Linked DNA regions of Homo sapiens. The protein of the gene in region 3 purifies or fractionates together with the protein of the main gene of each other region. This does not show direct contact. Each region holds a gene or a part of one and is shown on either strand. Other genes may lie near its edges. The genes, in order: SYT1, MMADHC and MKLN1.

Region 1 (3,657 bases), on a different chromosome or scaffold from region 3:
TTTTTGACTGTTGCTCTTTGAGTACAATCACTAGAAAGTCTAGAGAGATTTTAGATATACAATAACATTTTCAAGGGTTTATCCTTACTCTAAAAAATTTTGTTTCTTTCTTTGAGAGTCAGCTCTTTGGAAGGGTTTATTTTCCATTCCTTCTAAAATGGAAAAAGGATGATGCTTACTTTTTAATCATATCATTTTAATAAAATAATCAGGTTCCAAACAGATGGTAAATAAATGACAGAAAAGAAAAACTCTTTGGAAAACTAAAATTTCTTGTATGTAGATGGCCCAATATTCTTCCTTTTCTTCCCTCCTTAATATACAGAGTTAATTGAGAAATGTTTGCTGAAGCATAAGACAACCATTTACACTGATAAAATAATAGGAAGTGTATGAAAATTGATCAAACCTTTAAGACAAGTCTAAACAATTTCTTAATTAGGTATTTCTACCCAGTTACTGAAGTGTAGCTTACTTGGATTGCACTGCTTTCACTGAATATTAAAAATGTCACTAATAAACATCCCAACCCATAGCATCTGTCCCAGATATATTTGAACAGCTGGAGAATTCATCAGTTCTTGGCCTTTTGCCACCACTCATCCTAAGGCATGTCATACCCAAGAATGAACTTCAAAACCCATATTATAATGCACCTCTTATATTCAAAACATCAATTTCCTAGTCAGTTCTTGTCAATCAGCAAATTATTTTAGGGAGTAGGTGAGGCACTTGTGAATATCATTTCAATCCTTTCAGACTCCTAGCATAGCCTTTAATAAATCATTGCTCCATTGAACTGTGGCATTTAAATGCCTTGAAAGAGTTAATGGAGCATTTGAAATAAGTTATTTGCCCCTCAGTAAGTTACACCCTGACAATACAACTTAAAACAACAATAACAACAAAATATTCTACAAGAAAAACTTACTTATAGTCAAATGCAATTGGCTTGTTTATTGTTTTATTAATCTTAAGGCTTTATAGTATAACTAACAGCAGGATCCATTATTAATAATGCTAACAGCTTCTAGAACTTTGAGATAAGGCAATAAATCACTAAAATTTCCCATTTTCTCTCAAGTAATTTTAGCCTCAAGCAGTTTGTCAAAAGTCTGAATTTAAAAAATAACCAAAAACAAAATTATCTCCCTGTTCTGTTTATGCAACGTAAATATTAAATTAAGCACCATGAACAAGTAACATGTTTTAAGCATTTTTGTGACTGGATATTTTATCCTCATGTCTTTTAATTTAGGTACCATACTCGGAATTGGGTGGCAAAACCCTAGTGATGGCTGTATATGATTTTGATCGTTTCTCTAAGCATGACATCATTGGAGAATTTAAAGTCCCTATGAACACAGTGGATTTTGGCCATGTAACTGAGGAATGGCGTGACCTGCAAAGTGCTGAGAAGGAAGAGGTAAGGGAATTACTAGCATTTCTAACATCACAAGCTGTACTCGCCAGTTGCTGCTCATATAATAACTTATTGAGAAATACTCTTTACAAAGGGGGATGTGGGCCTCTAGTTGTTGACAGCTGATAAAATAGGGTCAAGGGCACTGCACCACCTCGTTAAAAAGTGTACAGGTCTTCTGGGTGTTATCTGAAAGAAGAGAGACATTTGTGTACTGGATCTAGAAACAGCAACCCTGGACACAAACAAACACACATGCCCACAGGAACTCTTTCTAAAAGCTTACAAAAGGCCACACACACTCATAAACTACTGCTTTAAAATGACAACGAAAAATTATTTTATTTCTCATTTTTCCACAATCATTTTGTGTTTTCTGCATAGGTTATGTAGCTATTACACAGAAATAAAATGGTACTTTTTCCTTGATTGTTTCTGCATATCACAGACAGTTCATTGTTTCTCCTAAAGATACGAGAGCATGATTGGTCAAACATCAAATATAATTCACAAAGCCTGATATTAAATCCATTTTTTAAATGACTCACATTTTTATGCTACTCCTCACATTGTTTATTCCCAGTTTTAATAGTTTAGCCCAGTATTTTTCCATGACTTGAAAAGGGAAGTTCAATATGTTTAGTGCATTTAAGCTTCATAATAATCAATTGTATCTGATTATGCGATGCCTGCCTGGCACCAGCATTTTTCTCTGCAAACATTTCAGTAGACCAATACTAGAAAAGCAAACAACCCTTAGCTTCTCCAAATTCCTAAAACAACTCCTTTCGCAGTCACTCTTTAGTTCCTGACGTAAGGCTGTAATTACGCAAGAGATTGCTGACAGCTCAGTCATTTAGGATCTCCAGGTCCCTAGGATTCCCTGGCCTCTTGGGGTCACCAGGGAGATCAGAGAGAACGTCAGGCCTTCAGAGAAACTCAATCAAGTCCATCACCTGGGAATCCTCTCAGCCTAAGGTTTTCTGTGACCAATCTGAGGCTATGAACTTTATACCCCCTATATGATGAAATGAGGTTTTAGAACAGGCCTATTAATTCCCATGCTGAAATTGAACTTTTCACTCTAACATTGCTGTTTGCTATTTGATTTTACAAAATGAGTCAAAAATACTTAAGTTAAACTCTGCTCTTTTTTTTGGAAAAAAGTATGTATACTTATACTTTCCAAAAAAGAGAGCAGAGCTTAAGTATTTTTGTATATAATATTCATGTATACTTATTATATATATATATATATATATATATATATATATATTTACTGTCTCAATATCTAAGAATGTTGACTAACCTTTCTTAGACATTGACACAGATTTAGCCCTACTGTGGATATTCAAGAATACCCAGGAAAAATACCGAGTTTTAAAATTATATGATTTTATGGATAGTTCTTTCCTATAAGTGAACTAATAGTAATGTTACAGACATCTTCATGAAAAAAAAAATTCGATCATTCAGTTACAATGTTTATAATTATTTAACAAAGTAGTGGGATGTTTCATTGACTTTTTTGTTGAAGTGTTTGACTTTGTGTAAATTTTTTGGGTGATAAAGTAGGACCATAAGAAATGTTTATTAACTGATTGGTTTTATTAATTGACTGGTGTTTGGTTGGCTTGTTGGTTGAATATGAGAACATGAACCACTGGTACTTCACAATGCCCACTTGTGCAGGGTGCATGGTTCACACTTGTTACTTTCACCTGGATAATTATCAGGTGGTAATGACATCCAAGATCACACCCAGTGGGTTTCTGAAAAATTGTGCAATGTTTTTTTCTGAGCTAAGGGAATGTGGACCATTGAGCAAGTTTCCTCTTTCAGAAATCTTTGAGTACGAGCAGAGTTTGAAACTTAACACCAGGCTGACGGGTTTCACTCTAGAATCTAGGGGTTTAGGTAAACTGCCCATTCAGAATTTTAACCTAGAAAGTGGCCTAACATGATTTACCCCTTATCTTACTTACCGATGAAATAGAATAGAACATGAAGTACCCAGCATAGAGTCTGGCATATGGTAAATGTTCACTAAGTGAGAGGTCTCTCATACCTTTTTCTTGGTTAATTTTGTGTGTGTGTTCTCTTTCCCCATTTTGTGTGTTCATCTCCTCATTTGTTGTGTCTCTTCCCTCTATTTTTATCTACTTCGCTATCCTTTTTCTCACCATTGCACTTACTGAGTATCTGTAGGAGTTATTAATGGGAAATATTAATTT
Region 2 (3,757 bases), on a different chromosome or scaffold from region 3:
GGATTCACATAACCAAATGGCATTAGTTAGCAACAAATCACTGTAGCTAAGGAAAGGTTGCTCCCCTTTGTTCAGAAAGGCTTTGTCACAGTCCCCATGAAGGCTTCTTAATGTACCTGTCTAGACTCTGAAACATGAACATTCTTGCCCCTTGTTATGAAACACTATCTGCATATTTCATTAGTAACATCCATCCACAATTTACAATCCATATAAATTAACACAAAAATTGTTATCGTACATTTGGATACTGAAACTTAAATTTATTTTAATATGAACTTCTTTCTAACAAAAGACTTATAAAAGGATCTTCCCTACTGAACTATTATAATTTATTCATTTAAACCAAAATAAAACCAGGTCAAATAATAGCATTCTATTCTACTTCAATTAATTTCTCTCCTTTGAAAGTACCACATACTTCTTTTACAGCATTCTCTTTCTGTGCAGGTTATGGGCAGGCAAAAATTCACCATAGAACTTGGCCAAGACTAGTAATCTATTCTTATGACTTGTCTCTATAGTCACACTTTAGACTTAATATACCATGTTCAATTACAGAAATAGCATCCTGGCTAAATGCTGCCATATAAATCTTCCTAGCACACAGCTCTAAGTGAATAATCACAATTTAAAGAATGAAGTCTAAATTACTGAGTTCGGCATTCAAGGCTCTCATTTACTTGGTACCAACCTCACAATTCAACCTTATCTCCCACTTATCTCTTTCATGCAGCTTACATTCAGGTTGGCAGGCAGCAGTCACTTTTCAGTTTTTCAAAGGGGTAGGCGGGTTGGGGAGTTCTTTGAATATACCTTCCTGTCCTTCCCGCTCATATTTTAGACTATACAAATCCCACCTATCTTTCAAACCTCAAGTTAAATGTTTCCCTCATGAAGTGATCCCAAACTCCTCTCCACAAAGACTTGAATCTGCATTGCACCTTCGTGTAGGTTCTAAAAAAAATTATTACTTTATACTTTAATTGTAGCTGTTTTTATATATGTCTTATGACCGCTACATATGAATTCTATAGATAGGATGTGTCTAATCACTGCAAAGTTACAGTCAATAAATATCTCTGGTGTGTGAGAGTATCTCCTATTCTTATTTTGTAGGATTTAGAAGGTCACTTCCAATATGGAAACTGTTTTAAAAAAAAGAAAAAAAGATTAAAAAAACCCTTCAGTTTAGCTAACCCAAAAGCTAAAAAAGGGCCTAAACATAGATTCTAATATTTACTGAAACGCTGTATTTAAAAAATACCGAAAGGGTGCTTGAATTTCCACATCTGTACAAATGAAATTGTATAAATAAGTGTATTTGCAGTGCAAAGAATGCTACCATCTTCAAAGCATAACATAATTTCACACCACTTGCTTCCCTTGACATTTTTGATACATTATATCTAACACTATACCACCCAATGCCATCATAATTAAACCCGTTCTTTCATTCCTAACATTCCCAAACGAGTTTACTATGCTGATTCTTAAGAGATAATTTACTCACATTGGCCATCTCCGCTGGAGAAGATAGTTCGCAAAATAGCTTTCCTTTGGTAAAGTTATTTCTGGGAAAGAACACAACAAAACAGACGAGTGATCGATTAAACTCTAACAACAGACAACTGAGGTAACGTCCACTCTTCGAAGGTGTGTCGTCCACCACGTCAGGACCAAAGTCCAAGCTCTCCCCGTACCCTAAGGAGGCCAGAACTCGCCCCCATGCCAGGCACAGATCCCCCAGCCCGGAGCCGGCAGTGCAGCTCAGAGCCCTTCCGGTTTACAGCCGCGGAAAAACAACTCGGACCAGATCCGGGAGGGGAATGGGGGCTGGGTGGCCAAAATTCAGTCCAGAGGATCGAAGCGGCTGCTTTAACAGAAGTTGGGGCTGCGTAACAACAGCTCCAAGCAAAGCTTCAGGCTGATCGGAAAGATGAGGAAGCAGAAAAGAGACTAAAGACAGACGGACAGGATGGCTGGGGACAACGACAGGGACCCAGTGAAAATACGGGCAATACCGAGGGCTGTAACCCTAACACGGGCAAATTTGGAGGGGCTAACATGGGCGGAAACCATCCGTACCAGTCACCACCACTGTCTCCAGCTGTCCCAGAACCGGACTCTTCCTGCCATCAAAATGGCGGCGGCGACGGCAGCGGTGGTAGCACCTACGCTGGCGGTGAGCAGGCAAAGGAAGTTGCTTCCGAGCGCGTCGAAACGATGATGCGCACGCGCAAAGTAGGCCTACGTGGAGCCGACCTGCCATTGGGTAAACGCAAGGGAGGAGAAAAGGTGGGGCAGGGGTGATTTGGGTGGATGGATAGGAGGGCTTCCGACCTGCGTTAGGCGGGTCAGTTAATCTTCAGTAACTCCTTGATGCGTTTGATAGTCCTCCCAACTTAAGCCTTCCTTACTGCCTCCAGGAGATACAGTCTTCTGTTCTTTTTGTCATAGTTGTTTATTTTTCATGAATCGCTGTTTTTGAGCATAGGGCACTTACCTCTTTCTGTGTCCCCAGCCCTACCACAGTGCCAGGCTCTCAATATGCTCGATAAATATTAGGCGATTGATTTGTAAATCGTGTATCATTTTCATGTATCTAATACTTTTTTAAAAATTGATTAAAGCCCATAAGCCCATATTTTATTCCAGATGTCCTTAGTTTTCGACCTGGTATTCTTTTCCATTCCAGGATCCTGTCCGGAGTACATCACCATGTCTTCCAGGCTCCTCTGGACCGTGACCGTTTCTCAAACTTTCCTTGTTTTTGATAACCTTAATAGTTTTGAAGCGACTTATTGGTCATTTGGTCAAATGTCCTTCAATTGGGTTTTGCCTGTATTTTTCTCATGCATTAACTGAGGTTATGGGTTTTTCTTGAGTTAAGAGGTAAGGTAAAGTGATCTTCTCATCACATCACATCAAGGGTATATACTATCAACATGACTTATTACTGTTGATGCTAACCTTTATCACCATTATTACAGTGTCATACAGAAAAGTTTTATAGTTCTACAAAGATCCCCTTTGTTTCATCTAGTAAGCCCTTCCACCTCCCTATGTAGGGTTTGTCAGGTTTCTCCACTGTGAAGTTACTGTTTTTCTTTTCCTCTCCATACTATACTATTTGGAAGGACATCTCTCTGTGCAGCCCAAACTATAGGAATGGGAAATTGTTATACTCCACCTTTATGAGGACAGAATATCTTCATGAATTATTTGGAATTCTTCTGCATGGGAGATTTGTCTGTACTGCATTTATTTATGTATTCAATCATTTATGTCAGTATGGACTCATGGATATTTATTTTACATTTTGGGTTATAATCCAATACTACTTTATTTTGTTGTTCATATTGGTTCCAGCTTTGGCTATTGAGATTTCCTTTAGTTGGCATTTGTGTCTTTTTGACAAACCCTCCTCGTTTTATGTTTATTGATTTTTTTTCTTGAGCATTTTCTTAATTTCTATAAGTTGCTCCAGGCTCATCTTGTATATTCCCTGCCCCAATCCTAGAATCAGCTGCTTCCCCAAAAAGCCAAGGGTACTTTTAATGGAAAATGATATTAGAAATCAAGATTTGGACATTTGGGATGTTGTTGCTTCTAGACACTCTCAGCTGACAGAGCAAGGAAATATTTGTGGATATGCTAACCTGACTAAATACGCATATCTGTAAGTATTTATATATGTATCCATCTGTATCTTTGACAGCTACACAGGCGTTCTAGGTTCAAATACTAGAGCTGT
Region 3 (3,657 bases):
TCCTGATATAGTACAACCTTGTCTCAACTGGTATAGCAAGGTAGGACTGTGTTTTAAATCCTGACTTTAATGCCTATAAAAGGAGAAATATGTCAATCTCTTATCTTCATTGAGAATAATTTAAAATATTCAAAATAATAATAACAACAGTTAGCTAACATTTTATTAAGCACTTCCAGTCTGCCAGCTTTTAAGGAATCCTGATAACTCACTTAGTCATTATCACTCTATGAGACAGGTGCACTTATTATCCCCATTAGTTTATAGATGAAGAAATGAAGAACAGAGAGATTAAATAGTTTGCCTAGGATCACACAATTGTAAAGTGTTTGAGCCAGTATATGAATTCAGGCAGTTTGGCTCCACAGTCTGCTTTTATGTTATTATACCCATTTGACTCTGAATTTTGTTTTTTCACTTGTATTCATATAAATACTTAAAACATAGTTTTTAGTGGGATAGTTTTGCAGCCTAATGGAAAATTTAAGATGTGGATGTGATTTAGACTCCTAAAGTAGTCAACAGGGTTAAAAAATACTGCTGTTTAATATAACTGTAATATATATTGTTACATGGTAGTTATGATAAGTCTTTTTTAGAGGCCAAGAGTAAGTTAATTATAGTTAACTAATTATAATTAAGTTGTTAATTAATTATAGTTAATTATAACGTGTAAGGATTAGGTGTTTAATGACCTTTTATTAGTTAAGTCAGCTATCAACTGATTTGTTTCAAATCTTATACATCTTCCTAAACACATTATTTTCTTGCCTTATTAAAGGGTCATGCCTATAAGTAAATCATTGTTGTTTGATTATCATGCAGGCTTCCATGTCATCTGTTTGTTTGAATAGTGGTATACTTAGGAAGTTTGAGGTAGTCCCAGAACATATTCCTGAAGTTGAGATTTTTTTAAAAAAATCCTTTTTATAAGATTGTATTTTTGGCATCTATCCTATTAGGGGAAAATTTTAATAAATTAAGTGCCTGCTTTTTGGATTCCAGTTAATTGAGATGTCTACTTTATAGCTGCTTAATAGATGAGGTAGTTCAGGCTTAGAAAACAATTAAATTGGGCCGGGCGCAGTGGCTCACACCTGTAATCCCAGCACTTTGGGAGACCAAAGTGGGCAGATTGCCTGAGGTCAGGAGTTCAAGACCATCCTGACCAACATGGTGAAACCCCGACTCTACTAAAAATACAAAAATTAGCTGGGCGTGGTAGCGCGTGCCTGTAAGCTCAGCTACTTAGGAGGCTGAGGCAGAATTGCTTGAACCTGGGAGGCGGAGGTTGCAGTGAGCTGAGATTATGCCGCTACAGTCCAGCCTGGGAGACAGAGCAAGACCCTGTCTCAAAAAAAGAAAGAAAAAAAAAAAGATTAAATGTCTCTTTTTGATGATTTTTGAGTCATAAAATGTGTTTGTAAATTTGAAATATCTGTATACTTGATACTTGTCATTCAAGTAATAGTTTATTTTTAAAAACCAAAAATAGCATAATATAATTTATGTGGATTATTTAATGTTCTTTTGTGCTCTCAGTACCTGCATTGTAATGGGATTAATAGATGCTATGGAGTTATAATTTTTACAGTATTAAGTGGAGTTTAAGAAATAGATGTTCTCCCTTTCTTCAAAGTTGAGGCTCTGGAATTAGGTTTGGTTTAATAACTTTTGGCTACATATTTTGTGACCTTGAGCAAGTTATTGGAACAGGCCAAGCTTTAGTTTTGCTAGTTAAAAGAGCCAAATAATGATACCTAATGAATCAGGTTAGTAAACTGCTTGGCACATAGTGTTAATAAATGCTCAGTGTAGATTAGTTATTTTTACTGTTGTTATTGTTTCCTACAGTATCATCTAACCAAATCTCTTCTTTCCATACTTACTCTGTGTTCTAGTAGTACCGTGAACAGGAAGCTATTCGCCTTTGCCTAAAACACTTCAGACAACACAACTATACAGAAGCTTTTGAGTCACTGCAAAAGAAAACCAAGATTGCACTGGAACATCCCATGTTAACAGATATTCATGACAAGCTGGTGTTGAAGGGTGATTTTGATGCTTGCGAAGAGTTGATTGAAAAGGCTGTAAATGGTATGAAACTTAGATTGGTTATTAGGGTAAATTCAAGTACATACGGGAAACTTTTTCTCAAAAATAATATAGGCTTATGCCAGTTATTACTGTAATTTTTTTTCTTGGTTTTTTACTCGGTTAAAGATTGTTATCTCTTTGGATTAGGGACTTCTTTCATGTAAAATAGATCCATGATGTAATGAGACTTAAAAAATTGAAATGTACTTGAACTCACATATAAATTTAAGTTGTCATCTTGGGAAACCATGCACTTACAAATGATTAACTAGCATTAAACTGTATCAGAAATAATATTTTGATATTGGTAGCCAATATTCATTAACAGTGTAGTTTTGAGGAGAAGGGGGGCTAGATAATAAAAAATGTTATTAGTAAACAATTATATATAAGGAACAAGGAGATTTGTATTGAAAACAACTTCCTTGTGGTGTGAATGCTATATAATTGCTGATTTTCTTGTGTGACCTGTAGTCTGGCTTTGAAAGAAATGTGAATAGTTGAACATCTGTATTATCTCCCAGGGTATTGGCTTTGGAGGGTAACACTCATTTGGATTTTTAAGGTCTGATGTGTTTTGTTATTTAAACTAAAAAGGGACTCTGTTGTTGCTTATAGTATGACTTTTTTTTTTAATCTTCCTCAGTAACTTTCATAGTGACAAACAACAGAATAGTTGCACAATATAAAACTTGTGGAATTGAATTTGGTGCATCCTTTATAGGAAGAAATAAGAAATAATAGATTATTCAGTGGTTTGCTCTCATTTTAATTTTATCACTGTTATTATCGTCTATTATTAGGTATTCATATTTATCAGATATTGGGTAGCTAAAAAAAAACCAGACTTGTACTGCCTTGAGTTTATAAATTTAAAGTTAACTTAAAATGAATTGCTTTGAGCTCCACTTTTTGAAATATGACAAATCTGCTTCTAAGCCTTGTGCATTGTTATTGCTTACTTGATTGATGATGATACTTGCAAATAAATGATAGGTATGTTTGAAATTGAGTATATTTTGGAGTATAAACAAACAAATAACTAATCTCTTAACAGACTTTAAAATGCTACCAATAAAAAAAAAATATATATATATATATATATATGCCATTTCTAGGAGTGAATTCTGTGGGTTTTTTTTAACCTCATAAGATGAGGGAGGCATAGGTAATTTTAGGGCTTTTTTGTTTGTTTCAGATATTTATCAGTAAGGCATTTGATACCATTTTGTGAAGGGAAAGCAAAACAACAGCCACAGGCAACTCTACAGTTAATAAGCTAAAAACAGTTATATTTTAAAGGTCTCTTTAGTGACGTACTCAGTTGGTTAAGATTAGCTGATAAAAATCTTGTGCAGTTTTGATATCTACAGAGACTTAACTTATCCTTTGGCTCTAGAAAGGAACCAAGTTTAGAGAAATTAGTAGTTGCTCAATTCTTGAAACTTACAGCCACATCATAGTTTTTGTACTGTGAATACTATGGGCTTTCTAAACTGGCCTGGAACACTGTTAGTTAATAAACATTCCTTTCAGGGTTGTTCTCTTTGCTTCTGATCT

Evidence for each region.
Region 1: the proteins of MKLN1 (region 3) and SYT1 purify together in Homo sapiens (co-immunoprecipitation; one large-scale study listed by IntAct). This does not show direct contact.
Region 2: the proteins of MKLN1 (region 3) and MMADHC purify together in Homo sapiens (affinity purification with mass spectrometry; one large-scale study listed by BioGRID and IntAct). This does not show direct contact.

Annotation. Positions count from the first base shown.
Region 1 is NC_000012.12:79,298,126-79,301,782, forward strand, and holds part of SYT1 (synaptotagmin-1), read left to right. Parts: intron 1-1,258; coding exon 1,259-1,426; intron 1,427-3,657. UniProt on the Homo sapiens protein: Calcium sensor that participates in triggering neurotransmitter release at the synapse. May have a regulatory role in the membrane interactions during trafficking of synaptic vesicles at the active zone of the synapse.
Region 2 is NC_000002.12:149,585,576-149,589,332, forward strand, and holds the start of MMADHC (cobalamin trafficking protein CblD), read right to left. Parts: upstream 2,201-3,757; 5' UTR 2,089-2,200; exon of another isoform or gene 1,783-2,088; intron 1,575-1,782; 5' UTR 1,523-1,574; coding exon 1,514-1,522; intron 1-1,513. UniProt on the Homo sapiens protein: Involved in cobalamin metabolism and trafficking. Plays a role in regulating the biosynthesis and the proportion of two coenzymes, methylcob(III)alamin (MeCbl) and 5'-deoxyadenosylcobalamin (AdoCbl). Promotes oxidation of cob(II)alamin bound to MMACHC.
Region 3 is NC_000007.14:131,397,337-131,400,993, forward strand, and holds part of MKLN1 (muskelin), read left to right. Parts: coding exon 1-40; intron 41-1,901; exon of another isoform or gene 1,902-1,904; coding exon 1,905-2,097; intron 2,098-3,657. UniProt on the Homo sapiens protein: Component of the CTLH E3 ubiquitin-protein ligase complex that selectively accepts ubiquitin from UBE2H and mediates ubiquitination and subsequent proteasomal degradation of the transcription factor HBP1.